Linked DNA regions of Homo sapiens. The protein of the gene in region 3 interacts with the protein of the main gene of each other region in a pairwise test. Each region holds a gene or a part of one and is shown on either strand. Other genes may lie near its edges.

Region 1 (8,489 bases), on a different chromosome or scaffold from region 3:
CCCGGGACATGGAACGGACCCAATAGGTCAAGCAGAATCGAGACAGGGATGTGGGCTCTGGAACCAAGATGGATGGTGGTTCCATCCACAGAAATCAGAGAACACGGTGGGAGTAGGGGGCTGTGCAGGAAGGGAACCTGGAGACATTGAAGTGGAGAAGTGCAGTAGGACTAGCGCTCCAAGGAAGATCCTGGGGCGGAGATAGGTGTTGAGGTAGCCACAATACAGAAGTGTGAGAAGAGGAAGCTCCTCTCTCCCCACAGGACAGGCTGCCCAGAACGTTAGAGCCCAGGAGGGCAGGAGAGTGACCAAGCAGCTAGAAGAGAGGGTGCAGCACCCCAAGGAGAGGACTGGGGGAGTGAGTGTTCCAGGAAGGGCTCTGGCATGTAAAGCTGCACAGAAGTCAAATCAGATAAAGCCTGAGAGGGATCCATGGGATTTCTTGGCAAAGGGATTGTTGGTGATACCAGGAAGAGCAGCTTCAGTGGCTCATGGGGAGAGAAGCCAGATTACAGGAGATCAGCAACTGAGAGAGTGAGTGGAGAGCATCTTTTAAGAATGTCTTGAGTGCGGGCCGGCTGCGGTGGCTCACGCCTGTAATCTCAGCACTTTGGGAGGCCGAGGCGGGCGAATCACGAGGTCAGGAGTTCGAGACCAGCCTGGCCAACATGGTGAAACCCGTCTCTACTAAAATTACAACAATTAGCTGGGCACGGCGCAGTGGTGCGTGCCTGTAATCCCAGCTACTCGGGAGGCTGAGGCAGGAGAATCACTTAGACCAGGGAGTCGGAAGTTGCAGTGAGCTGAGATTGCGCCACTGCACTCCAGACTGGTGACAGAGCTAGACTCTGTCAAAAAAAAAAAAAAAAAGAAAAAGAGCCGGGCACTGTGGCTCACACCTGTAATCCTAGCACTTTGGGAGGCCGAGGCAGGCAGATCACGAGGTCAGGAGATCGAGACCATCCTGGCTAACACGGTGTGAAACCTCGTCTCTACTAAAAATACAAAAAACTAGCCGGATGTGGTGGCGGGCACCTGTAGTCCCAGCTACTCGGGAGGCTGAGGCAGGAGAATGGCGTGAACCCGGGAGGCGGAACTTGCAGTGAGCCGAGATCGCGCCACTGCACTCCAGCCTGGGCGACAGAGCGAGACTCCGTCTCAAAAACAAAAAAAAGACAAAAAACAAAACAAACAAACAAAAAACCACATCTGGCTGTGAAAAGGCTAAAGAGTTAAAAAGAAGGAGTTTTTTATGAGAGACGTTTGCCGGGCACAGTGGCTCATGCCTGTAATCCCAGCAATTTGGGAGGCCGAGGTGGGAGGATCGCTTGAGCCCAGGAGTTCAAGACCAGACTGGGCAGCATCATGAGACAGAAAATTCAAAGTGAACTGGTGCAGTGGCTCATGCCTGTGATCACAGTTACTCCAGAGGCTGAGGCGGGAGGAGCTCTTGAACTTGGGAGGTTAAAGCTGCAGTGAGCTGTGATCACACCACTACACTCCAGCCTGGGCGACAGAGCAAGACCCTGTCTCAAAAAAAAAAAGACGGGAGAAACTTGACATGTTTTTTTTGTTGTTGTTTGTTGTTGTTGTTGTTGGTTTGTTTTGAGACGGAGTCTCGCTCTGTCGCCCAGGCTGGAGTACAGTGGCGTTGATCCCAGCTCACTGCAAGCACTGCCTCCCGGGTTCGCGCCATTCTCCCGCCTCAGCCTCCCAAGTAGATGGGACTACAGGCGCCGCCACCACGCCCAGCTAATTTTTTGTATTTTTTTAGTAGAGATCGGGTTTCACCGTGTTAGCCAGGATGATCTCAATCTCCTGACCTCGTGATCCACCTGCCTCAGCCTCCCAAAGTGGTGGGATTACAGGCGTGAGCCACCACACCCGGCCAAAACTTGGCATGTTTAATTGCTGGCAGGGGAGAGACAGGAGAAAGAGGCTGAAGACTGAGTAGGTATGGCAGGGGATGTGCAGCGGCTTGGGGGAGAGCTGAACATAGGTCGAGGGGTCTCAGATAGAGTGGGATGGAAGAGAAGGGGTTTCAGAGTGGAGCACAGGCACGGGAGGGGAATGGTGGGATAGGGAAGCCCCAGAGCATGGGAGAGGAGAGGGACTGAGGCTGGGCTGGGCATTCAGTCAGCCAGTGGCAGGAAGCTGGTGCTAATGCCGGGATTCAGGTCAACGAGGAAACGAAGAGTCCCAAGTGTGGGCACCCACAGAGAAGACCAGGAGTTGGAGGGGGCAGCTAATGCCCACAGCGGGAACTGGGAGCTCCTTGAAGAGGCTGTGGACCCAGGGCCCATGGCCTCAGAGGCAGGGGCGAGTCTTAGTGGCTATCCATAGCTAAACCAGAGGACCCTGGCTCTCCATCCACAGCGAAACAGGAAGACCCTGGCTCCTTGCTGAGGATGCTGTAGGTGAGGCAGGTGCCCCCAGCAGCAGACAGGAGAAAACAGAGGAACCACAGTGAAAGGCCAAGTGACCAGGTCCCTGCCTGTCTGGTGAAGAAACCCATGGGGCGCTGGGCGCGCTGGCCCAAGCCTGTAATCCCAACACTTTGGGAGGCCGAGGCGGGTGGATCACCTGAGGTCAGGAGTTTGAGACCAGCCTGGCCAACATGACGAAACCCCATCTCTACTAAAAATACAAAAAATTAGCTGGGTGTATTGGTGCATGCCTGTAATCTCAGCTACTCAGGAGGCTGAGGCAGGAGAATCACTTGAACCCAGGAAGTGGAGGTTGCAGTGAGCCGAGATCACACCACTGCACTCCAGCCTGGGTGAAAACATGCACCAGAAAGAACCACACCCCACCCGAGGAAAGACCCGCATAACAGGCAGAGACGGGCACAGGCTGAAGCAGCCAAGGATGTTACCCCCACGGGGCAAAGCTGGAGACTCAGGAACAGGAAACAGTTTTTTCTCTTTCTCTTTTTCTTTTTCTTTCTGGAGACAGAGCTCTTGCTCTGTTGCCCAGGCTGGAGTGCAGTGGCAGCCATCAACGGCTCACTGCCCCCTGACCTTCCAGACTCAGGTGATCCTCCCACCTCAGCCTCCTGGGTAGCAGGGACTGCAGGTGCGCACCACCACATGCAACTAATTTTTTTTTTTTTTTGTATTTTTTGTAGAGATGGGGTCTCAAGCTTCTGGGCTCAAGCAGTCTGCCTGCCTCATCCTCCCAAAGTGCTAGGTTTGCAGGTGTGAGCCACCACACCTGGCCAGAAATAGTTCTTTAAATGGACATGAAAAAACTTTAAAAGATTAGAAGACGCTGGGCACAGTGGCTCAAGCCTGGAATCCCAGCGCTTTGAGAAGCCAAGGTGTGGGAGGATCGCTTGAGCCCAGGAGTTTGAGACCAGCCTGGGCAACATGACGAAACCCAGTCTCTACAAACAAAATAATAATAAATTAGCTGGGCGTGGTGACACACACCTGTAATCCCCACTACTTGGGAGGCTGAGGTTGGAGGATCGCTTGAGCCCAGAAGGTCAAGGCTGCAGTGAGCTGTGATTTCAAGACTGCATTCCAGCTTGGATGACAGAATGAGACCCTGTCTCAACAACAAAAAAGGCCGGGCACGACGGCTCACGCCTGTAATACCAACACTTTGGGAGGCCGAGGTGGGTGGGTCACTTGAGGTTAGGAGTTCGAGACCAGCTTGGCCAACATGGTGAAACCCTGTCTCTACTAAAAATACAAAAATTAGCCGGGCATGGTGGCACGCACCTGTAATCCCAGCTACTTGGGAGGCTGAGGCAGGAGAATCACTTGAACCTGGGAGGCGGAGGTTGCGGTGAGCTGAGGTCGCACCATTGCACTCCAGCCTGGGCTACAGAGTGAGACTCCATCTCAAAAAAAGATGAGAAATCCTTCTAGAAAGTATGACAAAAAGCAAGATAGAAAATGGAAGGAAGCAGATACCAAAATTCGAAGATAATTCCAGTGGCCTCAGAATGAGAAGACAATGGTGGAGAGGAAGTTATCCAGGAAAGTAATGATGTCTAGAGCGGGGTCTGCGGCCAGAGAGCCCCATGCCCAGGAAGGGCCCTGCTGAGAATGAAAGGGCTACCCCCGGGGCATGTCACTGTGGGTTTAGCCTCTGGGGACAGAGTGCCCTACACACCCCAAGGGCAGCAAGTGGGGCCCTGGCTTTTCAGTGGTGGTGCCAAGCCCAGGACAGACCCAGCCGCATGCCAGTCGAGTGAGGGAAAAGTCACAAGAATGTTCTCTCCAGAACCCTTTTCTCGGGAAGGAGGAAGTTCACCAAACGGAGCAGGGAAGAGAGTCTTTTGGGATTCAGGAAGCAAGGGTGTCTCAACAGCAGGGCGCTAGGGAGGGTCTCGGGGGCAAGAGGCTGGGTACATTTGCTCGCATAGCGTGGCCCAGAGAGGCAGCTGATGAGGCAGTGAGGTCCCGGGAGGCCAGGGGTGGTCCAGGGCCAGGGTCAGAGCTGTGGGCTGACAAGGCCAGGGCCTCCCTGTCTGCTAGCCTCCATGCTTGGCCACGGGAAGGGGAGGTGGGTGGGCGGCGAAGACCACGCACACAGGCCACCTGGGATCCAGGTAGGGAGGGGGCAGTAGGTTCCTTGGGGGGGCCTCTGATCAAGCTGGGAGGACACCGTGGAAGGCACGGTGTGGAACCAGAGGATCTGGACCCTGTTGGCTCGAGGTCCTGCAGCCACGGAAGGAGGGGGATGTGTCTCAGCGACACTGGAACCTCAGAGGGCCGAGTGTGAGAGCCCTTGGGATGGACCTCAGAGGTCTGAGTATAGGAGCCTCTGGGACAGACCAACTCAGGGAGTGGAGGCCCACGCTCTGGCTGGGAAATGACAGGTGGAGGTGAGGGACCCCTGGGGCGGTGGACAGTTTGGAGACCAAGTGCAGAGCTGCTCCTGGCAGCTCAGAGCCTGGGGCAGAGGAGGGTGATGTCCCAGGAAGGAAGCTCCACGCAGGCCTGTAGAGCACAGCAGGGTCTGGCTCCTGTGGGCAGGGTGGGACCTGGTCTCCCTAGACGCTGGACCAGCCCTGCCTCCTCCCGGTGCCCATCATCCTGCAGGCTGGACCTGGGCCCTGCCTTTTGGTCAGATAGGTCCAGTTGTATTCTGCCCCCATCCTACCCACCTGCCTGTTCCCCTGAGACCCTCCCCTCACCCCCTGCTGTGGGGCTAGCCTAGAGGTCGAGGACTCTGACTCAGAGTTTCCTCCGGCTGTAGAACTTCTGGAGGTTTATATTCCGGAAGAACCTGCCCTCCACTGCCCTCTGTCAGATGGACTTTGCCGTCCTGGGCCTCGGGGACTCCTCATACGCCAAGTGAGTAGGGGATGGGACAGTGGGCGGACGGAACAGTTCTGGGGGTCGAGCAACAGGTGTGCTGGCAGAGGACCGAGACCAGCTTCCAGGGTCGGCCCCTGCGCGCCTCAGGGCCCTCGCAGTGGTACTGGCTTCTCCACAACGCTCCCTGGTGGGCACCCCAGGCTTCACGCTGCGGGGAGGGCACAGAGGGGAGCAGGCAGGGTGGCAAAGGGCTGGGCTCCAGCCACGCTGACGTCACACAGGCCTACCTGGCGCCGGTCCCCACTTTTACAAAAAGGCGTGCTGTGAAGTGTTGACGACTTTGAGCCTGGAGGAGGACCCCGTATGCTCCTGCCACCCCAGAGGCCACCTCTGCCTTTTCTCCTGGGCATTTTCACAGTGCTCCTCTGCACCCTAAGCAAGGAGTGGCATGTTCAGTGTGCAAATGGCATCTTTAGACCCCACAACGGTGAAAACCCCGACTGTCCACGTAGGGCCCAGGTCCGCTGAGCACCGAGCATCAAAAGCCGTTTGCATAGCCAGGTGTCAGTCATTTCAGATGAAAAAGAACGGGAAGATCGGAGACAGCTCCCCCCGGTTCTGCCGGGAGGTTTTGTTCCGTGCGTGACGTAGGTCCGTGCATGACGTTGTTTCCTGCGTGACGTTGTTCTGTGTGGGACACAGTGTTCGTTCAAGAGAGGGAGGGAGGCCGCTGCCGACAGCGTTCCCAGGGAGGAGCGTGACCCAGAGCCAGTCATGCCTCGGAACCAGAGTGAGAAGAGAAACTGACCCCCGGGAAGATGCCTGGCTCTCTCCCCAGCACAGAGTTTCTCAGCTGAGGAGTGACCCACATCTTGGCTGGGGGCCTGGAGGCCTCAGCTGCCTCAAGTCCCTGCCCAGGGATGAGGGCCCATCAGTGGGACGAGGCCGCCTGCTCCCACCCACACAGGCTCATTCTCTGCGAGCAGAGGACCTGCTGCTTGGCACCCTGGCAGCTGCCCTGGTCTCGGCAGCCCCTGGCGTGTGGAGGCCCTGCCCCCTCCTAGGGTGCGGCCAGCGTGGAGTGTGTTTTCCACCCGAGGGAGGCCCTCCCCAGGCTCCACTCTTCGCCCGGGCTCCACTCTCCCGGGTTCCACTCTGCCTGGGCACCACTCTCCGCCCGGGCTCCAGCCCAGGACCAGCCTCACTGTCTCCACAGGTTCAACTTCGTGGCCAAGAAGCTGCACCGACGGCTACTGCAGCTTGGGGGCAGCGCCCTCCTGCCCGTGTGCCTGGGCGATGACCAGCATGAGCTGGGGTGAGTCTGCGGGCGTGGTACCCGCCTCCACAGTCTGGTCTGGCCACACGCAGGGTCCGCTCAGGCCAGCGCACGTGCTCCCTCCCAGGCCCGACGCTGCTGTGGACCCCTGGCTGCGAGACTTGTGGGACAGGGTTCTGGGGCTGTACCCGCCGCCTCCGGGCCTCACTGAGATCCCTCCCGGAGTCCCGTGAGTGTGGGCCCCGGGTCACCCACAGGCGCAGCAGACCCAACCTGGCCTGGGGACCTCGCCCTGGGTCCCTCCCGTGTGGGTGGGCGGCCCCTGGGGAGTGGGTCCTGGTCTGACCAGCGTGCCCTCCCACAGCCTGCCCTCCAAGTTCACCCTGCTGTTCCTCCAAGAGGCACCCAGCACGGGCTCTGAGGGGCAGCGGGTAGCTCACCCCGGCTCTCAGGAGCCCCCGTCAGAGTCGAAGCCCTTCCTAGCACCCATGATCTCCAACCAGAGAGTCACCGGCCCCTCCCACTTCCAGGACGTTCGGCTGATTGAGTTTGACATCTTGGGCTCTGGCATCAGGTGGGGACTGCTGGGGACCGAGGAGGGCAAGGTGAGGTGGGCCGTGGGTCTGGGGTTCGGAGGAGGCTGGGCCGGGCTGCAGGGGATGACTTCTATCCGGGGCCCCGACATCCTCCCTGCGGCGTCCCCACAGCCCTGGTGGCTTCTTCCACACAGCTTTGCTGCTGGTGATGTGGTGCTGATTCAGCCCTCCAACTCGGCTGCCCATGTCCAGCGGTTCTGCCAGGTGCTGGGCCTGGACCCTGACCAGCTCTTCATGCTGCAGCCGCGGGAGCCAGGTGAGCCCAGCCTCGGCCACCCTGACTCTCTGCCCTCTCCCGTGCCCTGGGCCCCCACCCCAAGGGCTCCGCCGCAGCCCACGGAGGCCTCCCACTCACCCTGCAGATGTCTCCTCCCCCACGAGGCTGCCCCAGCCCTGCTCCATGCGGCACCTCGTGTCCCACTACCTGGACATCGCCAGCGTGCCTCGCCGCTCCTTCTTCGAACTCCTGGCCTGTCTATCCCTCCATGAGCTGGAGCGGGAGAAGCTGCTGGAGTTCAGTTCTGCCCAAGGCCAGGAGGAGCTCTTTGAATACTGCAACCGGCCCCGCAGGACCATCCTGGAGGTGAGATGGGAGGGCGGCAGGCCCAGCCCCTGAGCTACAGCCACGCTGCAGCCACCCTGAGACTCTCTTTGCCTAGGTGCTCTGTGACTTCCCGCACACAGCTGCCGCCATCCCTCCCGACTACCTGTTGGACCTCATCCCCGTTATCCGGCCGAGGGCCTTCTCCATCGCCTCCTCGCTGCTGGTGAGGGGCCTGGTGGTTGGAGCCCAGGACCGGCCCTGGGAAAGCTGGGACCGGGGCTGTGGGGTTTTGTAAGCAGGGGCTGCCCTCTGACCAGGTGACGTTCCCCCAGTCGGACTGCCTCTGCGGGAGGTAGGTGGGGCCCACGGCCCAGGCACAGGTGAGGGCAGCCTTGTTCCACCACCCCCACCCCGCCGTCCTCCCCAGACTCACCCCTCACGGCTGCAGATCCTCGTGGCTGTAGTGCAGTTCCAGACTCGCCTCAAGGAGCCCCGCCGGGGCCTCTGCTCCTCCTGGCTGGCATCCCTGGACCCTGGGCAAGGTGACCCCTGCTCCCAGGGTGGGGGCCGTGGGCCCATATCCCCTTCTCTCCCATGCTCATGCAAATGCTGGGCTAGGGCCCCAGCAGACTCAGCACAGGTCTTTGATCCTCTTCATGCCACCTCCTTCCTGCAATAGGACCTGTCCGGGTGCCCCTCTGGGTGCGGCCTGGGAGTCTGGCCTTCCCAGAGACACCAGACACACCTGTGATCATGGTGGGGCCTGGCACTGGGGTAGCCCCCTTCCGAGCAGCCATCCA
Region 2 (4,751 bases), on a different chromosome or scaffold from region 3:
AAGAGAAAACTTAATAACCTTTATTTATTAAAATGCCCACAAGTGAGAACTTTTTCAATATGTAAGAATGGAAGGTACCCTTTGAAACACGGCCAGGTGAGCTCACAGTATTTTTTGCCTTACTGCTGCCCCTTCCAGGTATGAGAACGAGCTGTGTCTCCGGCAGAGCGTGGAGGCTGACATCAATGGCCTGCGGAAAGTCCTGGATGACCTGACTATGACCCGCTCTGACCTGGAGATGCAGATTGAGAGTTTCACCGAGGAGCTAGCCTACCTGAGGAAGAACCACGAGGAGGTAGGAACATGTTCTACATAAACGAATAACTCTAGCTAACATATTTCTCCCCATATGCATTCTATACAAATAAAATTGGCTGGGTGCAGTGGCTCATGCCTTTAGTCTCAGCTACTCTGGAGGCCGAGGCAGGGGGATCCCTTGAACCCAGGAGTTGGAGGCCACAGTGAGCTATGATCATGCCACTGGATTCCAGCCTGAGCAACAGAGAGATACTGTGTCTCTAAAAAAGTAAAATAGGCCTGGCACGGTGGCTTATGCCTGTAATCTCAGCACTCTGGGAGGCCAAGGCAGGCAGATCATGAGATCAGGATTTCGAGACCAGCCTGACCAACATGGTGAAACCCCCTCTCTACTAAAAATACAAAAATAAACAGGGCATGATGGCGCACACCTGTTGCACCTGTAATCCCAGCTACTCAGGAGGCTGAGGCAGGAGAATCACTTGAACTGGGGAGGCGGAGTTTGCAGTGAGCCGAGATCAAGCCACTGCACTCCAGCCTGGGTGACAGAGTGAGACTCCATCTCAAAAAGAAAAAAAAAGAAAAAAAGGTAAAATAAACTCATTTTTATCTAAGTGAATTTCCCACATACTATGACCAGGAAACAAAAGTAATCATGAGTAAATTATACCTAGATTTGATTTTTTTTTTTTCCTTTCAGTGTCCTACTTTCAAATTGTTGTTGTCTAGGCACATTTTCGGAAGTCATCACTTTTCTGTTTGCATCACGATAGTCTTTTTTCCTTCATGCTAGGAAATGAAGAATATGCAAGGAAGCTCTGGAGGGGAGGTGACCGTAGAAATGAATGCTGCGCCAGGGACCGACCTGACCAAATTACTGAATGACATGAGGGCGCAGTACGAGGAGCTGGCTGAGCAAAACCGCCGAGAGGCTGAGGAGCGGTTCAACAAGCAGGTAGATCCTCTCTGCTGAGCACCTAAGCCAGTAGCCACACACAAGCCGCTTCTGCTCCTTTCATCAGCCTACAACAGCTGCATTATGTTTGTATTTAGAGCGCATCACTACAAGCACAAATCTCCACTGATGCTGGGGCAGCCACTTCTGCCAAGAATGAGATAACAGAACTAAAACGTACCCTGCAAGCCCTGGAAATTGAGCTTCAGTCCCAACTGGCCATGGTATGTGCAAATAGCTTTTCACATTTTCCAACAGGGAGTTAAGCAAATGCAGTTTTCTTTCTTTGCCAAGAGGTTCACTAGGCACATAAAAAAGGCAGTGTTAAGGAGAACTGCATTATGATTATAGAAAGCATTAAAAGTTAAAGATAATGTACTCTATTTTGCATAAAAGATTTAGTTTAAAAAGAAGTGCCAACCAAAATTAAAGAAGCAATGATATAACAATATAGGTTATATGGCGAAGGTGCACTTCTAGTGCCACATAAAATTGCATTTTTAAAAAATCATCCAATGATTTATTTTCATCATGAATTTTTTATTTGCTTTTTCTCTTAGAAAAGCTCCCTGGAGGGAACCCTGGCTGACACAGAAGCTGGCTACGTGGCTCAGCTGTCAGAAATTCAAACGCAGATCAGTGCCCTGGAGGAGGAGATCTGCCAGATCTGGGGTGAGACTAAATGCCAGAACGCAGAGTACAAGCAATTGCTGGACATCAAGACACGCCTGGAGGTGGAGATCGAGACCTACCGCCGCCTGCTCGATGGAGAGGGAGGGTAAACCAAAGTCATGAACAAACTAAAATGCATACCTTAGTGAATTTATTTTATAAAACCAAAATGGGACTCAGGGCTTAGACTTGTATATATAGAGAGTAATAAAGTAACAGACACAGGCTGCGTGCAGTGGCTCAGGCCTGTAATCCCAGCACTTTGGGAGGCTGAGGTGGGAGAATCACGTGAGCCCAGGAGTTCAAGACCAGCTTGAGCAACATAGCAAAACCCCTTCCTCTTCAAAAAATAATTTTTAAAAAATTAGCTGGAGGCTGGGCACAGTGGCTCATGCCTGTAATCCCGGCACTTTGGGAGGCCAAGGCAGGCAGATCACGTGAGGTCAGGAGTTCGAGACCAGCCTGGCCAACATGGTGAAATCCTGTCTCTACTAAAAATACAAAAATTAGCCAGGCGTGGTGGCACACACCTGTAGTCCCAGCTACTCAGGGGACTGAGGCGGGAAGATCACTTGAGCTCAGGAGGCTGAGGCTGCAGTGAGCTGTAATCATGCCACTATACTCCAGCCTGGGTGATAGAACGAGACCTTGTCTCAAAAAAAAAAAAAAAAAAATTAGCTGGGCATGGTGGTGCACACCTATAATCCCAGATACTGGGGAGGCTGAGACAGGAGGATCACTTGAGCCCAGGAGTGCAAGGTTGAACAAAAAAGCAGCAGACACAATCCAATTAAAACACATAAACACATCCAAAACTTCATCATGAAGAATCCCCGGGGCGGAGGCTTTCTCCTGCCTTTGCAAACTGCAAAGGAAAACATAATTCTTTTTTTCTCCAGTGGTTCTAGTTTTGCAGAATTTGGTGGTAGAAACTCAGGATCTGTAAACATGGGATCCAGGGATCTGGTATCTGGTGACTCAAGATCTGGAAGCTGTTCTGGTCAAGGACGAGGTAGACTTTTTTTAATATTGATAATAGTTCTGTAATTTAAAAGTGAAGACATACTTTGCTTGTCATACTAAAAGAGTCCGCTATTTTTTACATAATCTTACCCAGACAGAACACGTTGAATGCATGTGATTGAATTTCTCTTGCTCTGTGTTTCTGTGAGAGTTTCCAGACTGACATTGCAATCCCATGATTTTCAGATTCAAGCAAGACTAGAGTGACTAAGACTATCGTAGAGGAGTTGGTGGATGGCAAGGTTGTCTCGTCTCAAGTCAGCAGTATTTCTGAGGTGAAAGTTAAATAAGGAACTTCCAGATCAACAAAAGTGTCTTTCAAAGAAAAAAAAATCAAGAAGGACACAAGCGAAGAAATGGCATCAATCTAGGCATCTTTCTGGATAATTTCAGGAAAAGCTTCAGTCCAGAAATGGATGACTAGCCAACTTTTCTGCATCTTCTTATTTCCTCATTAGAATGCTCTTGAAATAGCTGAATTAACAACTTTGCTTTAATTGTTTCTATGCTTCAATAAATTTACTTTTGCAAGTTAATTATTACTTATTTTTTTAAAAAGTATTTTACCTAGGAAGGAAGCTATCAAGTATGATCTAGCTGCATGACTATATTACTAATGTCAGTTCATTCTTTATATCTTACTGTTGTAACTGAGCGAGTTATAGAGAAATGACACACTCTGAGACTAATTCAGGAGTCCTTTTATTGCCGGCGAACAAGACGGCTAGAGCTCAAAATTCTCTCGGCCCCGAAGAAGGGGCTAGATTTCTTTTTATATCGTGGTCTAAATAGGGGAGAGGGAGTTTAGCTGAAGCAATTTTTACAGAAGCAGAACAGGCAAACCAATTAAGAAAGATTAATTGGTTACAGAAACAGTTACAGAAAAGTAAACAGTTCCAGGTGCAGGGGCTCAAACTATCACAAAGAGATAATGCAGGGGCTTTGGGTGCCATCCCCCAAGCGCGTCCTCAGGAACTGCTGATTTAGCTTGCCTCGATATCTCATCAGTAAGCGCATTCCTGGATGTGCTCGGAGTCAGCTTGCACTACTTATGCCTTTAAGGGAGGGGAGCTGCAAGTGAAGAAACAAAAATGGAGTCTGTCCGGCTCTCTCAGCTAAGAGAGACAATCAGGTTAAAACGAGGTAGGGTATCACATTACCTTCTTTATACAATTCAGATTATAGTCATTTTTTTAATGTGGGCATTTTTAATGGCATCACATAAGAACTCAGTGGCATGATAGCTGAAATTAGACTACCGTGTCAACGGCTTAGCCCACAAAGAAGGATGTGATTATTTTAATAATCAACTTATAATTAATGTCTAGTTTATATATGTCCATCACTGAACTCGATATTTTATAAGATAAAAAAGAAACTCAAAATCTCCCTCCTACTTCAAAAAGCTCACATTTCAGCAGAGAAGAAGAGCTAAAACACAAAGAAGACAGCAAGCAATAAAAAGCTGTTAATAGTAAAGACTTGATTTCACAATCTGCATCAGAAGTGACATAGGAATCAGACATGTGTGTTTACAGGACATTTAGGACAGGGGCCAAAAAAGAGTCTTGGGAAATAAGATTGGCTATGTGATATGGCAATCTGATTTCCTGAAACCTTGAAAGCCCCAAAGAGAAGAGATCCTCAGGCACTTGTTCCCCTGCCAAATCTAGCCACATCTTTAGCCAAAACCTGCCACTTCGCCAAGCTGGTGTTTCTTTTCCCCAGTCTCCACTGCTAAGATCTTTCATCCCGTTGGTGGTCATAGCCCTATTCTTTCATTTCTACAGTATCCCTGAGGCCACATGGCTTTGTCTTGTCTTGTTTGGGATGATGAAACCTG
Region 3 (8,489 bases):
TTGATTGAATTAGTTTGGAGTGGGGCTCAGACACGGTTTTGTTTGTTTGTTTGTTTTAAAGTTCCACCAGTTGATTTCACTGTGCAGCCAAGGGGTGGTGACCACTCGTTAAAGGGATGAGGCCAAGCTGGTGAGGGTTCCTGGGATTTGCAGTGGCTCACTTTCCTCCCATTCCTGTTCTCAGATGGCGCTCCCGACGCTGCCGTCCTACTGGTGCAGCCAGCAGCGCCTGAATCAGCAGCTAGCACGACAGCGAGAGCAGGAGGCCCGGCTTCGGCAGCAGTGGGAGCAGAACAGCCGTTACTTCAGGATGTCTGACATCTGCAGCTCCAAACAGGCAGAATGGAGCTCTAAAACCTCCTACCAGCGGAGGTAATTGTGCGGTAACTGCCGATTGGATGGAAGTGGGGACCACTTGCTGGTCAGGGGATGAGGCCTTAAGGATTTAGGGAGCGTAGGATTTGCCAGGCAGTATGAATTACCTGCATGGTGATGTTTTTCCAGCTGGAAATGGAAAAAAAGATCATCAGTGCAGCCATACATTGGCATTGAAAAAGATAAAATGATGCAGAAGCATATGATAGAATTTGGAAGCCTGGTTGTAACCCCATATCCCCAGAGACAGCCACAGTTAACAGTCTGGCACATATCCTTCCATGCTGTTTCCCACTGGTATTTGTGCTTAAATATACACACACAAAGCTACTTTTATAGAAATACGTGTAAAAACATGGAGGCCAAAAGCATAGGCTTTGAAGTCAGACCTAGATGGAAATCCTGACCGTGTCTCTTGCTGAATGTATGAGCTTTGGTTTCCTCATCAATCAAGTGGGGCTACAGCAGACCTATGCTGTAGGATTTATGTGATGGATAATATATACATTATTTATACATTTATACATTTTCTTTTTGCAAAAAACAAGATTTTCTCTTACACATACTATTCTGTGACCTGCTGTCTCTGCTTTGGCTGGGGACACATTCCTGTGTCGTCATGACACATCTACCTCAGCCTCTTTTACCGACACAGCAGAGCAGAGCACGTTCCCTGTGGCTGTAGCATGATTGATTCAGGCAGGCCCCCTCTCACCCAGCATGCATGCCTATCAGCGGGAGAAGATGAAGGAGGAGAAGAGGAGGAGTCTGGAGGCCCGACGGGAAAAGCTCAGGCAGCTCATGCAGGAGGAGCAGGACCTGCTGGCCAGAGAACTGGAGGAGCTGAGGCTGAGCATGAACTTGCAGGAAAGAAGAATCCGGGAGCAGCACGGGAAGCTGAAATCAGCCAAAGAAGAGCAGAGGAAACTGGTAACTCCCCAGAGGGCTTCAGGAGGCTGTGGAGCAGGAGTGTTCCCAGCCTGAGTGTGTCGCACATGTAGGGTCATTCCTGGGTGCTCAGGTCTGATGAGATGCCAGTTAACTCCAGAGCCAGCAGGAAAAGAGCTTAGGTCCTTGTGCAGGGACTGGGTTTTGGATCAGTTAGCTGTAGTCTCTTTAGCCCCTTCAATCATTACATCTGAGTGCTTTTCCTTTCTTCCAGTTCTGTGGGTCCACAGAGATCTGGGACTAGTCTGTTTTACCTTCCAAAGTAGTTATGTGAAACAGTGAGCCCTAATCTGTGCTTTTCAGCCTGCTGTATTATTTTGAGACCCCCTAGATAGGACCTCTGTGTAGCATCAGATTTTGGCCCCCTTTTGTCATCATTGCAAGAGTCACTTGGTAGTGCCATGTGGTTCTCAGAGCTGTGCATGTGAAGCATGAGGGTTTGAACAGTGGTTGCAGTGACGGTGTGAAGGGAGGCACTCATAGCCTGAGCTGACTTCCACTGTGTGTCATCCAAAATGTGAATGGATTTGAAAAATGACATCAGGCTTTCCATTTTGTGTTTTCTTGATAGATTGCTGAACAACTTTTGTACGAACACTGGAAAAAGAACAACCCGAAACTTCGAGAGGTGAAAATCAGAGATCTCCATTGATTTATCTAAGTAGATGAAATCATGTTTCCAGACACTTTTTTTTTTGAACACGTATCTTGTACCGGGTTGAAACAGAGGAGGGAACCTTGAGCCACCTGAAAAGAGCGCCAGGCAGAAGATCTGGCACAGGCTGCGCTGAGCGGCTCATTCGGTTGTTGAACAAATGTTGATTGAACCTCCGCTGCCTGGTCTGCCAGGTGCGGGCATGGAGATTAGACATGGTTTCTGCTCATTAGCTTGTGTCCAGCATGGGAGCTCATTACAGGGCAGGATGCAGGGTGCTGGGCCAGCCTGAGAGGATGAGCATGGGCCAGCGCACTCAACTCTGGAGGGGTTGGGGAGGCTTCCCAGAGGAGTTCCTGGGGTGGAAGAGTTTGAAGGGATGTATGTGTGTAGAGGTGAGGAAAGGATGTTCTAGGTTGATGTGACTGTGAGAACCAGGCTTGAGACTCGAGAACAGAGCGAGCCCTGGGAGCTGAAAGTGTCTGGGTGAGGCTAGGATGTCAGATAGTGAGGGAGAACCCCAAGAAATGACGCTGGCGAGGCAGAGGGTGCCAGACATCGGAAGAGCTTGTGTGACCTTCCTCCAAAGGGGCTGGGGGCAGCATACAGGATCCCAGCTGCATTTCAGAGAGACTCCTCTGGTAGCAATGTGCCCGCCGACAGGGAGGGGTGCTGCGACAGCCCAGCCGGGGGTTGGTGAAGGCCTGAACTGGGCTGGCAGGGGAGGGGGTGGCCTCTTGGCTTGGTGGCCTTGTTCAGTGGAGATTTGGCTGCAGGGAGATCATCCCTCACTGTTATTCATTTATTTTCAACTTACAGTTTTTGTATACATTTGGTGCCTTCGTGTTATTCGTAGTTACATTTAGAAATCGCCAGGCACTAAATAATGGAACATCTGGTGCTTTTGTGCAGTTTGCACTAATCTGTGGGAGGACTCCTTAGCCCTGTTGGCTTCGGTGGAATCATCCAGAGCCGTTAAATCAGAAAAGTTTATTCAGAACATTCAAGTTAATTGCCTATGTTCACAGCTGTAAGTTGGGAAAGATTATTTTAAAACTTTTTTATAGAGACAGGGTCTCCCTGTGTTGCTCAGGCTGGTCTCAAACCTGGGCTCAAGTGATCCTCCCACCTCAGCCTCCCGAGTAGCTGAGACTACAGGTGGGCGCCACCATATCCAGCTAATTTTATAAACAGTTTCCCAAACAAAAGATTTGGATTGAATGTTGTGATCCATTTTCTAATCCAGGAGATTGTCTGCGCTCAAATCTCTTACTAACAATGCTAAACTTGTTGCACCTACTGGTGCATCACTTGATACAGGGAGTACGTAGTCCATCTGCTTTGCAGAGGAAACTTCGGGGAGCCAGGCACAGGGTTGAGTCTTCTCACTCAGCTGTCTCCCAGGGCCTGGCATGCAGTACATCAACCCAAGGTGGCCTTTGAAATTGTATTTCCATTTCAGCGTCCAGCCCAACCCTAGGGCTAGTGGGAGGGAAGTCTCTGTTACTTTGTACCAGCTCAAAAGATTGGTGTAGGAGTGCCTGGTCCTTTGGTCTTCTGATTGACATGCATTCACACTATACATGTTGAAGTCACCCCACGCTCTCTACTAGACGCCTGTGCCACTGAGTCCCCATGAAGCGAAGTCATGGCCACGTTCCCGCAGGTGGCACAGAGGGCAGGAGCACACTGTCCCCACAGTGCCCATCTGTCTGGTGAGGAAATTCACATCGTCCCCCTTCCATCCTCAGATGGAGCTGGACCTTCACCAGAAGCATGTCGTAAACTCTTGGGAAATGCAGAAAGAAGAAAAAAAACAGGTGTGGTATGTGGCTCTGGGAATAGCCGCGTATTCTGCTGTGCGAGACTGTTCACGTCTTTGCATTCGTTTACCGTTTTCAGCATCAGTGACTCCAGTTAAGGAGTGTAGTGTACTCTTTTCTTAGTTTACTTGACACATGTGAAAACTGAATGTTTGCTCTTACATATACCAGAATCCTATGTGATAATTCCCAGGGCAGAATAAGGCCAGGTGACCAGGGCTGGGAGGTGGCACATACAGCACGCGTCTTCTTTTTTTCTTTTGGAGGCAGGGTCTTGCTCTGTCACCCAGGCTGGTGTGCAGTGGCGCGACTCACAGCTCACTGCAGCCTCGACTGGCTGGGCTCAAGCAGTCCTCCTAACTCAGCCTCCCGAGTAGCTAGGACCACAGGTACGCACCACTGCGCCCAGCTAATTTTTTAATTTTTGTAGAGATGGGGTCTTGCTCTGTTGCTCAGGCTGGTCTGGCCTCCTGGCCTTAAACGATTCTCCCACCTCGGCCTCCCAAAGTGCTGGGATTACAGGCGTGGGCCACAGGGTCCAGCTAGGACGTGTGTCTTTAAGGGCATTTTTGTCTCTCTTTTGATGAAATCTGCATCGTAAACTCGCAGCCCTGGCTTACTGTAACCCCTTTGGGGTTAAGCTTCCACACCTCTGTGCACTGGTCGCTTTGCTGCCTGGTTCATTTTAGAAAGTGTTTTGTTGAGTGGGGAGGAAACCCAACATTATTGAGTCCCTCCCTGACTTGGCGTCTGAGGGCGTTGTCATTTGGGATTCAGGCAGGAACTGCCTGGGCCCTGTGGCCTGCAGAACGGCGGCAGGAAGCTAGGTTTTTGTTGGCTTACGGTACAGATATTGACCTGTGTTCATTTGGTCCCTTGTAGCAAGAAGCCACCGCAGAGCAAGAGAACAAACGGTATGAAAATGAATATGAAAGGGCCCGAAGGGAGGCGCTAGAAAGGATGAAAGCTGAAGAGGAGAGGAGGCAGCTGGAGGACAAGCTCCAGGCCGAGGCACTGCTGCAACAGATGGAGGAGCTGAAGCTGAAGGAGGTGGAGGTGGGCACAAGCCCCTCTCAGCCGTGACCTCCTCCACAGCTGCTCGTTAGCATGAGATGGGCACTTGAGAGGCTGCCCTAAGAAGAGGCCATAGCAGGGCTGAGATTCTGCAAAGGGCGGCAGCAGCCGGGTTCTCCCTCTCACATGCATCCCCATCTGCCTTGTGCTTTCCCATCCTCCTCGTTTGCGTGCCTGAATTCCAGAACATTAACGACATGGAGCCAGTAGCTGTTCTCTTAGAGGTGGTTAGCGGCCTGCTGTTGGAGAACCTTCTTAGAATCTGGATTTTCCAGTGCACTGAGTAGACACAATTTAATCGGGTGGTCTAGCACCCAGCTCTCCGTGGGGAGCAGGTTTCGGGTCTCGAGGCATAACTGAGGGTTTTTGGTCCAGGGGCTGTTTTTGGAGAACATGGCACAGTTTCCTTGAAAGAGATCTTTCTATTTAGAAGAGGGAGGCCCATGCTCCTGTGACCTCACTTCCCCTTGCCCAGGCCGTGATTTAGCAACTACATTCTTAGTGCCTACTGCTTATTCTAGGTGCTGAGCACTGGGTTGGGAACTAGAGATAGAGCCTGACCAAGGCCCACAGTCCTGACCTCCTGGTGGGGGCTGTGTCAGGTGGAGGACAGTTGTTAAGTTACAGTAAGAGTGGACCAGTACAGGATCCTGTGGGAGTTTAGAGTTCAGGGCTCAGAAAGGCCCTTGCAGGAAATGGCTCAGAGGGGATTGGATGAGTAAGTGAGTGGTGGGAGGGGATCGTGACCACCTGCATGGCCAGGCCTCTGTTGGTGTAGTGTCTGCGAAAAATGGAGATGGAGAATGAAGGAAGATCTGATTCCCACGATCTCAGATCTCAGTCGAGCTTACTCTCATCATCACCACAGGCGACCAAACTAAAGAAGGAGCAGGAGAATCTGTTGAAGCAGCGGTGGGAGCTAGAGAGGCTGGAGGAAGAGCGAAAGCAGATGGAAGCCTTCCGGCAGAAGGCAGAGCTGGGGTGTGTGTCAGAAGGGCCCCCCACTCTTCCCAGGCGGGTGGGCCTCTTGCTTTTTCAGACTTGCATTCGTGTTGCTGAAACCATAAAGGAGACAGCCTGGTCAGCAGTTATCTAACTTCTATTTAATTCTTTCTGAGATACTGAAGGCAGCCCACATTTGATTCTCCTTCAGGCGTTTCTTGAGACATCAGTATAACGCTCAACTCAGCAGACGCACACAGCAGATCCAAGAGGAGCTGGTAAGTCTGAAGAGACAGCCTGACATCTTTCTTAGCCTCTTTTGTAAAAAAGGCCTTCCATTGCTTAGTATATGAGTGCATTCTCGTAAGAATGAAGACAGTGAGGGGTTGGGGGAAAGGGGAGATGTTGGTCAAAGGATACATCCCTCGGTTGGGAGATCTGGGAGTAGTGTCCATCATGTTGATCACAGCTGATGATACCATATTGTATTCTTGAAATTTGCTAAGAGAGCCAATCTTAAGTGTTGTCACCATGAAAACCAACTGTGAGGTGATGGATATGTTAATTAGCTTGACCGTAAGGATCCTTTCCCAGTGTCTGTGTGTATACATAGATGGATAGATACAGGTATCAAAACATCAAATTATTTTTCAGTAACTGTGTTACTTAAAAAGCAGCACAACACAAAGTGAGATCACCCCCTTGACCAGCACCTGCAATCTCTGTCTATCCCCAGAGGTGCCTGTTTAGTTCACATCTTTCTAGATGTATTTACATACAGAGAGGTGGAGGTTTTTGTTTTTGTATTTAAATCTAATTGAGGTTGCATTCCTCAGCATCTTCAATTAACACTAAATCTCTTAATTTTTAAAAAGATCGGCCAGGTGCGGTGGCTCCCGCCTATAATCCCAGCACTTTGAGAGGCCAAGGCAGGCGGATCACCTGAGGTCAGGAGTTTGAGGCCAGCCTGAATGACATGGTGAAACCCCATCTCTACTAAAAATACAAAAACTAGCCGGACATGGCCGGGCGTGGCGGCTCACACCTGTAATCCCAGCACTTTGGGAGGCTGAGGCGGGCGGATCACCTGTGGTCAGGAGTTTGAGACCAGCCTGGCCAATGTGGTATAACCCTGTCTCTACTAAAAAATACAAAAATTAGCCGGGTGTGGTGGCAGGCGCCTTAATCCCAGCTACTTGGGAGGCAGAGACAGAAGAATCATTTGAACCTGGTAGGTGGAGGTTGCAATAAGCTGAGATCAAGCCGTTGCACTCAAGCCTGGGGGACAAGAGCGAGACTTCTCTCAAAACAAGAACAACAACAACAAAAACTAGCCAGGCATGGTGGTGCACACCTGTAATCCCAGATACTCGGGGGGCTGAGACAGGAGAATTGCTTGAACCCAGGAGGTGGAGGTTGCAGTGAGCCGAGATTGCACCACTGCACTCAAGCCTGGGCAACAGAGTGAGACTCTGTCTCAAAAAAACAAAAAAAGGTCATTATGCTTAGATTGAACCTGTTCTTTTCAGATAGCTCCTTTGTATTCCTAAGTACTTTGATGAGCTCCCTTGAAGTGAGGGAGACAGACCTAAGCTGCCCTTCCCATCCCTGCCCACTGCGGTCAGGGCAGGACATGGGGCACAGTGGCATGGTTGGTCCTGGTGTGCAGCTGTTTTTTATGGGGTCTTGCTCTGTTGTCCAGGCTGGATTGCAATGGCGCAATCACGGCTCACTGCAGCCTCAACCTGCCAGGCTCAAGCCATCCTCCCACCTCAGCCTCTCGAGTAGCTGGGACCATAGGTGTACATCACAATGCTTTGTAGAGATGGGGTCTTGCTACATTGCCCAGGCTGGTCTTGAACTCCTAGGCCCAAGTGATCCTCCCACCTCAGCCTCCCAAAGTGCTGGGATTGCATGCATTAGCCCCAGTGCCCAGCCTCCTGCATTATTTTAATGCTTCCATTATGTTGATGTACATAGTAGCTAATTCCCCACCAAGGAGCATTTTGGTTGTTTCTGGTTTTTCCCTCTTACCTAAAAGCTGCAACGAGTGTTTTGCACTTTTGTGTCACTGTGGTCTTTGTTCTTATAAGTGGGATTTTTGCCAAGTTGTATTCCAAAAAGTTGTGCAACCAGGTGTATCCGAGGGCATGTGGTGGTGGCTGGGTCTCCCTTTAGCCAGAGAGAAGCTCCTAGGCCTGTGCAGTGTCTGAACCACCCCTCGTGATTATCCCCAGTCTGTTCCAGAAATAATCCAGGATCTTCCCATCTCTGTCTTGAGAACACTGTGTAGAATCACGAATGTCTATGTAGAAAGGAAAGGGAGGGCAGGCCCCTCTGTAGGCTCTCATTGCAGAAGGACTCTGTCCAGCCCAGCCACGTGCCGCCCTCTGCTTCCTCTAGGAGGCAGACAGGCGGATCCTGCAGGCCCTCCTCGAGAAGGAGGACGAGAGCCAGCGCCTCCACCTGGCCAGGCGGGAGCAGGTCATGGCCGATGTGGCCTGGATGAAGCAGGCCATTGAGGAGCAGCTGCAGCTGGAGCGGGCGCGGGAGGCAGAGCTGCAGATGCTGCTGAGGTGAGTGGCAGCTGCTGACTGGGCTGGATGCTCCTGGCCTCAACTCTGATACCTTGAAATGCCCCATGGGTCACCTGTTACTGAAATATCTATTGG
Region 4 (8,489 bases), on a different chromosome or scaffold from region 3:
CGATTTCTCTCTCCCAAGACAGGAACTTTTCAAAGGACTTGGGTTGGACTGCCTGAGTACTGATGCCTCTTAGCCTTCTGGGCTCCAGAATAAATGCAATGACTAACCAATGCGATGAGCTGCTAAAGAAATTGCTTTGGCAGGTGGGAGGGTGTTGAAGAGGTGGTGTTAGTGTGCCTCCCTCAGGTCAAGTCCTGAAGTCAGTTCTGGCTGTGGGGAGTTTGAAGGAAGACATTGGCCAAGATAGCCCAAGTCCTGATTACTTTTTTCTTTCTAAAAATTGTAAGCTTGGCATGGGGTCTCACCCCTGAAATTCCAGCACTTTGGGAGGCTGAGGTAGGAGGATCGCTTGAGGCCAGGAGTTTGACATCAGCCTGGGCAACTAGCAAGACCCTATCTCTGCAGAAACTTTTTTTAAAAATTAGCTGGGCATGGTGGCACACCTGCAGTCCCAGCCACTTGGGAGGCTGAGGTGAGAGGATCCCTCGATCCCAGGAAGTTGAGACGACAGAGAGAGAGATCTTGTCTCAAAAAATTTTTTTTAATTTTTGTAAAATGCACATAACATGAAATGTACCACCTTAACCTTTTAAATGTACAGTTCAATGGCATTACATACATTTACATTGTTGTGAAACTGTCACCACTATCCATCCCCAGAACTTTATCACCACCCCAAACTGAAACCCCACACCCCTTAAACAATACCTCCCTACTCCCCCTCCTTCCAGCAACTGGCAACCACCATCCATCCTATGCCAGGTACCTCATTTAAGAGGAATCATACAATATTTGTCCTTTTGTGTCTGGCTTATTTTGCTTAGCATAATGTCTTCAAGGTTTATCCATGTTACAGACTGCAGACCTGGTTACTTTTAGCTGATAATTTCTATTGCAATCTATGTGACTTTTATCAGCATCATCCATTCTCCTGTCAAATGTGGATTTTTTTTCTGTGTTGATATTTACTTGATTTCTTTCCTTAATTCTGCCAGCTCTCTTTTCTTCTCCAGTTTTGATCACTTATATCTCTTTGTTTTTGTTATTTCTTTTAAAATGGTATATCGAAATGGTATTGATTCTTGGAGTATCTGTCCCTTGTTTGTCAAGCTTTCTTTTTTCTTTTCTTTTTGTATTATCTGGTTTGCATCTTTTGTTGGATTCTGTCTGCTTATCACTCCCCTTTTATCAGGGTACTTTTATCTGGAGCTGAAGGTGAATTCCTGACTCAACCCACTGTGTTTATCTTGGCTTTCTTTCACTGTCCTCTTAAATATAAGCTGCCTGGTTGGATGTTGTCATTGGTTTTGCAATCTCTCTTTAGTTCTGTGCCTTCTTTGGTGAATAGAGGGGTATGACCTGAATTAATAGGTAGTTGAGTGTCTCAATTTGGTTGTGTTGTCTTGGAGTATTTTTCACGCAGAATCCGGTGATTTATCTACCATAGAGGCCCACACAGGTCCATGGGAGGAGGTCTCCCCTGAGATTTGAGCTATTTCCTCTCCATTTCACAGACAAACAGGTCATTCTGGTTGAAAGCAGGGCCCTTATAGAGCTCCATGGCACACAGGGTTTTAATTTGATGAGTCATCTTTTGTTGATCTTTGCTTAAATAGCTTTAGTCCACAGTTGCATAGTTGATTTTCAGGCTGTAGTTTCTTTCCTCTGTGAAGGTTTGAGGTTTGTTCCTTCATTACCCTTTTACTTTTTTTACTTAAAAAACAAAAACAAAAAACGGCCAGGTGAGGTGGCTCACACCTGTAATCCCAGCACTTTGGGAGGCCGAGGTGGGTGGATCACCTGAGGTCAGGAGTTCAAGACCAGCCTGGCCAACATGGGGAAACCCCATCTCTACTAAAAATGCAAAAAATTAGCCGGGCATGGTGGCACGTGCCTGTACTCCCAGCTACTCAGGAGGCTGAGGCAGGAGAATCGCTTGAACCCGGGAGGTGGAGGTGGCAGTGAGCCAAGATCCTGCCACTGCACTCCAGCCCGACGACAGAGTGAGACTCTGTCTCAAAAACAACAACAACAATAATAACAACAACAACAACAGTAAAAGAAACTGCCTCTGCCTGAGACTCAGAGAAATGAATATTAGCTCTAAGGGTTTTTTTGTTTTGTTTTTTGTTTGTTTTGTTTTTGAGACAGGTCTCCCTCTGTCACCCATGCTGTAGTGCAGTGGCATGATCACAGCTCACTGCAGCCTTGACTTCCTGGGCTCAAGTGATCCTCCCACCTCAGCCTCCCAAATACCTGGGACTAAAGGCATGAGCCATCTTGCTTTTTCTTCTTTTTGTAGAGACGTGGTTTCACTGTACTGCCCAGGCTGGTCTTGAACTCCTGCACTCAAGCCATCCTGCTGCCTTGACCTCCCAAAGTGTTGGGATTACAGTCATGAGCCACCGTGCACAGCCTGGCCTAAGTTTTATTGTGTCTGACAATGGAACACAATGATTATTAGGACAGGCTCTGGAGTCAGAGTGCCTAAGTTCCAGTACTGGCTTTGCCACCTATTAGCTCATGACCGTGTACAATTTATTTAATTTCACTGAGACACAATTTCCTCATCCTTGAAATGGGGCTAAGACTATTACCTACTTCAGGGCCAGGCATGGTGGCTCACGCCTGTAATCCCAGCACTTTGGGAGGCTGAGGTGGGCGGATCATGAGGTCAGGAGATTGAGACCATCTGGCCAACATGGTGAAACCCTGTCTCTACTAAAATACAAAAAAATTAGCCGGACATAGTGGCAGGCGCCTGTAGTCCCAGCTGCTTGGGAGGCTGAGGCAGGGGAATCGCTTGAACCCAGGAGATGGAGGTTGCAGTGAGCTGAGATTGCACCACTGCACTCCGGCCTGGGCGACAGAGCAAGACTCCATCTCAAAAAAAAAAAAAAAAAAAAAGAGTATTACCTACTTCAGGGTTGATATGAGGATTAAGTGAATTAATACAAATGAAAGACTTAGAGCAAATCCTGGCTCAGTAGATGTTAGCCATTATTATTCTATTTCTTGTAGACTAAGTTAGGAGTGATTGTTCACCTCCTCGACCATCTTTTTTTGTTTGTTTGTTTTTTGAGACAGAGTCCTGCTCTGTCGCCCAGGTTGGAGTGCAATGGCGCAATCTCGGCTCATTGCAACCTCGGCCTCCTGGGTTCGACTCCAGGGTTTGAGTGATTCTTGTGCCTCAGCCTCCCGAGTAGCTGGGATCCTCAACCATCTTTACAAGAAGTTCTTGAGGAATAAATACAACAATGTCTGGAAAACCCATGACACGATGCTTGACACATGATAAGCCCTCAAAACATATTTTTTTTGAGACGGAGTTTCACTCTTGTCTCCCAGGCTGGAGTGCAATGGTATGATCTTGGCTCACTGCAGCCTCCACCTCCCGGGTTCAAGCAATTCTCTTGCCTCAGCCTCCCAAAGTATCTGGGATAACAGGCGCCTGCCACCGCACCCAGCTAATTTTTGTATTTTTAGTAGAGACGGGATTTCACCGTGTTGGCCAGGCTGGTCTCGAACTCTTGACCTCATGATCCACCCACCTCGGCCTCCCAAAGTGCTGGGATTACGGGCATGAGCCAGCGCGCCTGGTCTCAAAACATTTGTTGAATGTTAAGTAATGAGTATCCCTGCCTTTGTGGCTCAGGAAGAGGAAGGGTGCAGTGAGGGATGGAGGTTGGGGAGAGCGGCTGCCCAAGAGTTTATCTTTGCTGTGGGATATAGGTCCCCCTTCCTCCCATTCAAATATCTCTATATGCTTGCCATCAGCAAATCAAAGATAAGAAAGACAGGAGACTGCAGCCTTAGAGTTCTCCCAACACCTCTTTCCTCACTTGGGTTCTAAATATTGAAAAGTAATTGTATTAAGCAAACAAAAGGCAAGTGATTATACACTTTAACGCATTCCCTAAACTAAACTCAACAATATTCATACATTTCTAGCTACTGAGAAGGCAGATGTACAAACATGCCTTGAATTATCTCAAACTAATCTGCCCCAGGTTTATGATGGGCTTAAAGGTTAACATGATTCTCAAGAAATCCCAAGAAAGATGTGATATTTATGGCACACACCAGTTACTCTCCCCAAGATAAGCTGCTCACTTCACAGTGGGTCCACGTTTCCTGCCTTGCCTACAGCCCTTGCTACCAAAGGATCAAACAAGACCCTTGACTTGGCTGCACTCTGTGCATGATGGGGTGTTGCTGCACACACGCAAGGGGCCTTCCAAACTGTCTTCTGGTTTGTGTATGGTGTAAGGGTTTGGAGAAGTTCATGCATCCCAGTTGTAGGAAGTGCATCTCACTATGCTAGCTCATAGGTGACCACTGTCTCCATTACTCTCTAGGAATGCATAATCTTCCAGCCAGTTGGGATTAGGTTCTGTTCTAAGTGGCAGAAACCCCAGAATAACAGTGGCTTAAAGAGGGTAAAAATTTGCTTTATTCTCAAGTGAAAGTATGGGTGGACAGTGCAGGACTGCCTCATCAGAGACCTCCTTTCATCTCGTTACCATTCTCAACATGTGGCTGCCACTTCATGGCTCAAGACGGCTGCTTCAACTTGAGCCATCCCGTCTTCTTTCCAGCCAGCAGGCAGGAGAAAAGGGGAGGAGCAGGGCATGCCCCTCCCATGAAAGACGGTTTGTGCAATTTCCTACAAATTACACAAAACATTTGCATCTACATCCCAGAGCACAGCCAATTGGCCACACCCAGCTGGAAGGGAGGCTTAGATTCATGGGTTTTTTGGTTTGTTTTTTTGAGATGGAGTTTCCCTCTGTTGCCCAGGCTGGAGTGCAGTGGTACTATCTCAGCTCACTGCAGCCTCTGTCTCCTGGTTTCAAGCAATTCTCCTGCCTCAGCCTCCCAAGTGGCTGGGACTACAGGTGTGCACCACCGTGCCCAGCTAATTTTTTTATTTTTAGTAGAGATGAGTTCTTGCTATGTTGCCCAGGCTGGTCTCAAACTCCTGAGCTCAAGTGATCTGCCCACCTCGGCCTCCCAAAGTGCTGGGATTACAGGCATGAGCCACCACACCCAGCCCTTTATACCATGTGTCTTGTTAAAACTCAGGGCACTTATTATTAAAGAAGAAAAGGTGGTGAACGTCAGGGTACAATAAGCAGTGTCTGCCAGTCTTTCATCTCTGCATCTCCCCACACATAGACTCTTTTCTCTGTAGACCAGCCTTCTCTGTTCAGTTTCTGACCCCTTACACTTTCCAGGGTGGCCGTGATGTCAGCTCTTAGCCCAATTCCACAGGTCTATTCAATTCCTAAGCAGAACATGGCGTAGCCAGCTAAGCCCCTGAGTCTCAAGTCCAAATTCTTAGGAGAGAATATTTGATTGGTTCTGCTTGGGTCAGGTGATCACCTCCTTAGCTCTGAATCAATCATCTGTGGCAGGGATCTCCCTTCTAGGATAGGATGGAGCAACTACTCTAGGCAAGAGATGTAAGCCGGAGGAAGTGATGGGTGTCTGTTAAGTCCTCCTTCTGAGCCTACCCCTATCACAACACCCATCCTGCTGGATGCAGTTGTCAGGTGCTTGTCCTTAGGACAGGATGCATTTTCTTTGTATCTTTAACTCAGAGTCCAGCAACTACCTGGCACACTATAAATGAATAATTTTATCCTCAGCTTTACAGAGGTTGAATACCTGCCTAAATTTATATACTTAAGAGGTTGGGCATGGTGGCTTACGCCTATAATCCCAGCAATTTGGGAGGCCGAGGTGGGAGGGTCACTTGAGGTCAGGAGTTTAAGACCAGCCTGGGCAACATAGTGATACTTCATCTCTACTAAAAATAAAAAAAATTATCTGGGCATGGTGGCACACACCTCTAGTCCCAGCTACTCAGAAGACTGAGATGGGAGGATTGCTTGAGCCCAGGAGGTCGAGGCTGCGGTGAGCTGTGATCCCACTACTGCACTCCAGCCTGGGCATCAGAGAAAGAACCTGTCTCAAAAAAAAAAAAAAAAAAAAAGGCCGGGGGGAGGGCATCAGAGATAGCACAAGAACCCAGGACTCCTGACTTCCAGTTCCTGGAGCAATTTTCTAGAATTACCTGGCTAGTTACAGTTTGTGAACCCCATTGTTGAGCACTTGTATCTGCTTGTACCCCTGCCCAGGACTGCAGAGAATCTCCTCCAGTTGTGGCCCAAGAGGGCCCCAGACTGGAAGACATTGGTCGCACCACTCAGAGTTCATTTCCTGCCTCAGCCTTATTGCCAAGACCAATGTCTCCCCATGGCTCCAAGCTGGACCCCTTTGGAGAGATCCCATCCTGACTATGCCTTGACCAAAGCTGAGTTCTGGATGCAGGGGCACTCTAGGAGGTGGGCTGAATAATGAGGCAAAGGTGGGAAGCAGGGTCTCCATGGCCGTCCACCGTGCGCTGCTCTCAGAGGTGGATCCAGCCACAGAGAAGAGCTGACATCTTCCCCTCCATCAAGTTCCTACTCCCTAGCCCCCAAGCCCTTTCCCCCTGCCTCCTCCGAGTCCCTTCATGCCTCCCCGTGCCTGTTCTCTCAAGCCATCTGTCCCTGCAGGCCTCGAATCCTCTATGGCAGTCCCGGGGCTCCACCACTGTGTCTTCAGGAGGCCGTTTCCGCTGCCCATCGTGCAGGCATGAGGTTGTCCTGGACAGACACGGTGTCTACGGCCTGCAGCGAAACCTGCTAGTGGAGAACATTATCGACATTTACAAGCAGGAGTCATCCAGGTGAGCCACCAGAGTCTCTTGCCTCTCTCATGACAGGGCTTGGGACACAGCCAAGGAACCCATCAGAGCCAAAAGGGAGAGATTGAAACGGTCAACCTGCCTGTTCTGTCTAGAGACCATAGGACTGGATCCGGAGAGGGACTTGCCTCAGGCCTCCCAGAGAGGGCAGTCTCTGATTCCCTAGCCAGTACTTCACTCCTACCCTCTCCTCCTGGGAGAGGCTGGCAGTCCACCAGCAAGATCCTCGCTAACCCTCCAAGACTTCCTGTCCTGTGGGACTTCCCTGCCCCCTTGTAATACAGACTGTTCTCGGATCCAGGCCTCCTCTATCTCTTAGCTCCTTCTGTTCCCCAAATTCAGAGCTCTGTGGAAGTACTCACCAGTTCAGCCACAGCACTAGCTGCAGGGGCGGAGAAGGTGGTGGCAGTTGGTGGAGGCTGAAGAGAAGGTATTCCTAGGACCCTTCATGCTTAAGGTCCACCTCCCCCTGCCCACTCCTCTCTAGGCCGCTGCACTCCAAGGCTGAGCAGCACCTCATGTGCGAGGAGCATGAAGAAGAGAAGATCAATATTTACTGCCTGAGCTGTGAGGTGCCCACCTGCTCTCTCTGCAAGGTCTTCGGTGCCCACAAGGACTGTGAGGTGGCCCCACTGCCCACCATTTACAAACGCCAGAAGGTATCAAACAGGGGAGGGAGTAGATATGTGAGAGATGGGGGCTTAGGACAGGGTCTCAGTGTCAGCCTCTTACTCCACTTATCTTTTGTTTACTTATTTCTTTATTTATTTAGAAACAGGATCTCACTCTGTTGCCCAGGCTGGAGTGCAGTGGCACAAACACAACTTACTGCAGCCTTGATCTCCCGAGCTCAAGTGATCCTCCCATCTTAGCCTCGCAGAACACTAAGATTATAGATGTGAGCCACCGCACTCAGCCCTATCTATCTATCTATCTATCTATCTATCTATCTATCTATCATATTTTGAGATGGAGTCTCGCTCTGTCGCCCAGGCTGGAGTGCAGTGGTGCAGTCTTGGCTCACAGCAACCTCAGCCTCCCGGGTTCAAGCTGTTCTTATGCCTCAGCCTTCCAAGTACCTGGGATTACAGGCATGTGCCACCACACCCAGCTTTTTTGTTTTTTGGTTTTTTTTTGACTCCTGGCCTCATGTGATCCGTCCACCTTGGCCTCCCAGAGTGCTGGAATTACAGGTGTGAGCCACTGCGCCCAGCTCCATTTATTTATTTTTTAAGAGATGTGGGGATCTCTGTCGCGCAGGCTGGAATGCACTGGTATGATTGTGATTCACTGCAGCAGCCTTGAACTCCTGGGCTCAAGTGATCCCTACCACCTCAATCTCCCAAGTAGCTGGAACTACAGGCATGTGCCACCATGACCAGCTAATTATTTTATTTTATTTATTTATTTATTTGTTTATTTATTTATTTTGAGATGGAGTTTTGCTCTTGTTGCCCAGGCTGGAGTGCAATGGCACGATCTCGGCTCACTGTAACCTCTGCCTCGCAGGTTCAAGCAATTCTCCTGCCTCAGCCTCCAGAGTAGCTGGGATTATAGGCGCCTACCACCATGTCCAGCTAATTTTTTGTATTTTTAGTAGAGACGGGGCTTCACCATGTTGGCCAGGCTGGTCTGGAACTCCTGACCTCAGGTGATCCACCCACCTTGGCCTCCCAAATGCTGGGATTACAGGCGTGAGCCCCTGCGCCCGAACCTAATTTTTTATTTTTACATA

What was found.
Region 1: the proteins of TCHP (region 3) and NDOR1 interact in binary tests that used the Homo sapiens proteins (3 or more experiments, as listed by UniProt).
Region 2: the proteins of TCHP (region 3) and KRT24 interact in binary tests that used the Homo sapiens proteins (3 or more experiments, as listed by UniProt).
Region 4: the proteins of TCHP (region 3) and TRIM54 interact in binary tests that used the Homo sapiens proteins (3 or more experiments, as listed by UniProt).

The regions. Positions count from the first base shown.
Region 1 is NC_000009.12:137,207,291-137,215,779, forward strand, and holds part of NDOR1 (NADPH-dependent diflavin oxidoreductase 1), read left to right. Parts: intron 1-5,211; coding exon 5,212-5,309; intron 5,310-6,489; coding exon 6,490-6,588; intron 6,589-6,676; coding exon 6,677-6,778; intron 6,779-6,913; coding exon 6,914-7,123; intron 7,124-7,279; coding exon 7,280-7,401; intron 7,402-7,507; coding exon 7,508-7,728; intron 7,729-7,804; coding exon 7,805-7,912; intron 7,913-8,116; coding exon 8,117-8,231; intron 8,232-8,368; coding exon 8,369-8,489. UniProt on the Homo sapiens protein: NADPH-dependent reductase which is a central component of the cytosolic iron-sulfur (Fe-S) protein assembly (CIA) machinery.
Region 2 is NC_000017.11:40,696,684-40,701,434, reverse strand, and holds the end of KRT24 (keratin, type I cytoskeletal 24), read left to right. Parts: intron 1-138; coding exon 139-295; intron 296-1,051; coding exon 1,052-1,213; intron 1,214-1,311; coding exon 1,312-1,437; intron 1,438-1,773; coding exon 1,774-1,991; intron 1,992-2,784; coding exon 2,785-2,897; intron 2,898-3,094; coding exon 3,095-3,198; 3' UTR 3,199-3,444; downstream 3,445-4,751.
Region 3 is NC_000012.12:109,902,843-109,911,331, forward strand, and holds part of TCHP (trichoplein keratin filament-binding protein), read left to right. Parts: intron 1-184; coding exon 185-372; intron 373-1,078; exon of another isoform or gene 1,079-1,094; coding exon 1,095-1,305; intron 1,306-1,894; coding exon 1,895-1,951; intron 1,952-1,986; exon of another isoform or gene 1,987-2,172; intron 2,173-3,729; coding exon 3,730-3,798; intron 3,799-4,683; coding exon 4,684-4,857; intron 4,858-5,743; coding exon 5,744-5,856; intron 5,857-6,028; coding exon 6,029-6,095; intron 6,096-8,220; coding exon 8,221-8,393; intron 8,394-8,489. UniProt on the Homo sapiens protein: Tumor suppressor which has the ability to inhibit cell growth and be pro-apoptotic during cell stress. Inhibits cell growth in bladder and prostate cancer cells by a down-regulation of HSPB1 by inhibiting its phosphorylation.
Region 4 is NC_000002.12:27,292,004-27,300,492, forward strand, and holds part of TRIM54 (tripartite motif-containing protein 54), read left to right. Parts: intron 1-6,563; coding exon 6,564-6,736; intron 6,737-7,241; coding exon 7,242-7,413; intron 7,414-7,526; coding exon of another isoform or gene 7,527-7,652; intron 7,653-8,489. UniProt on the Homo sapiens protein: May bind and stabilize microtubules during myotubes formation.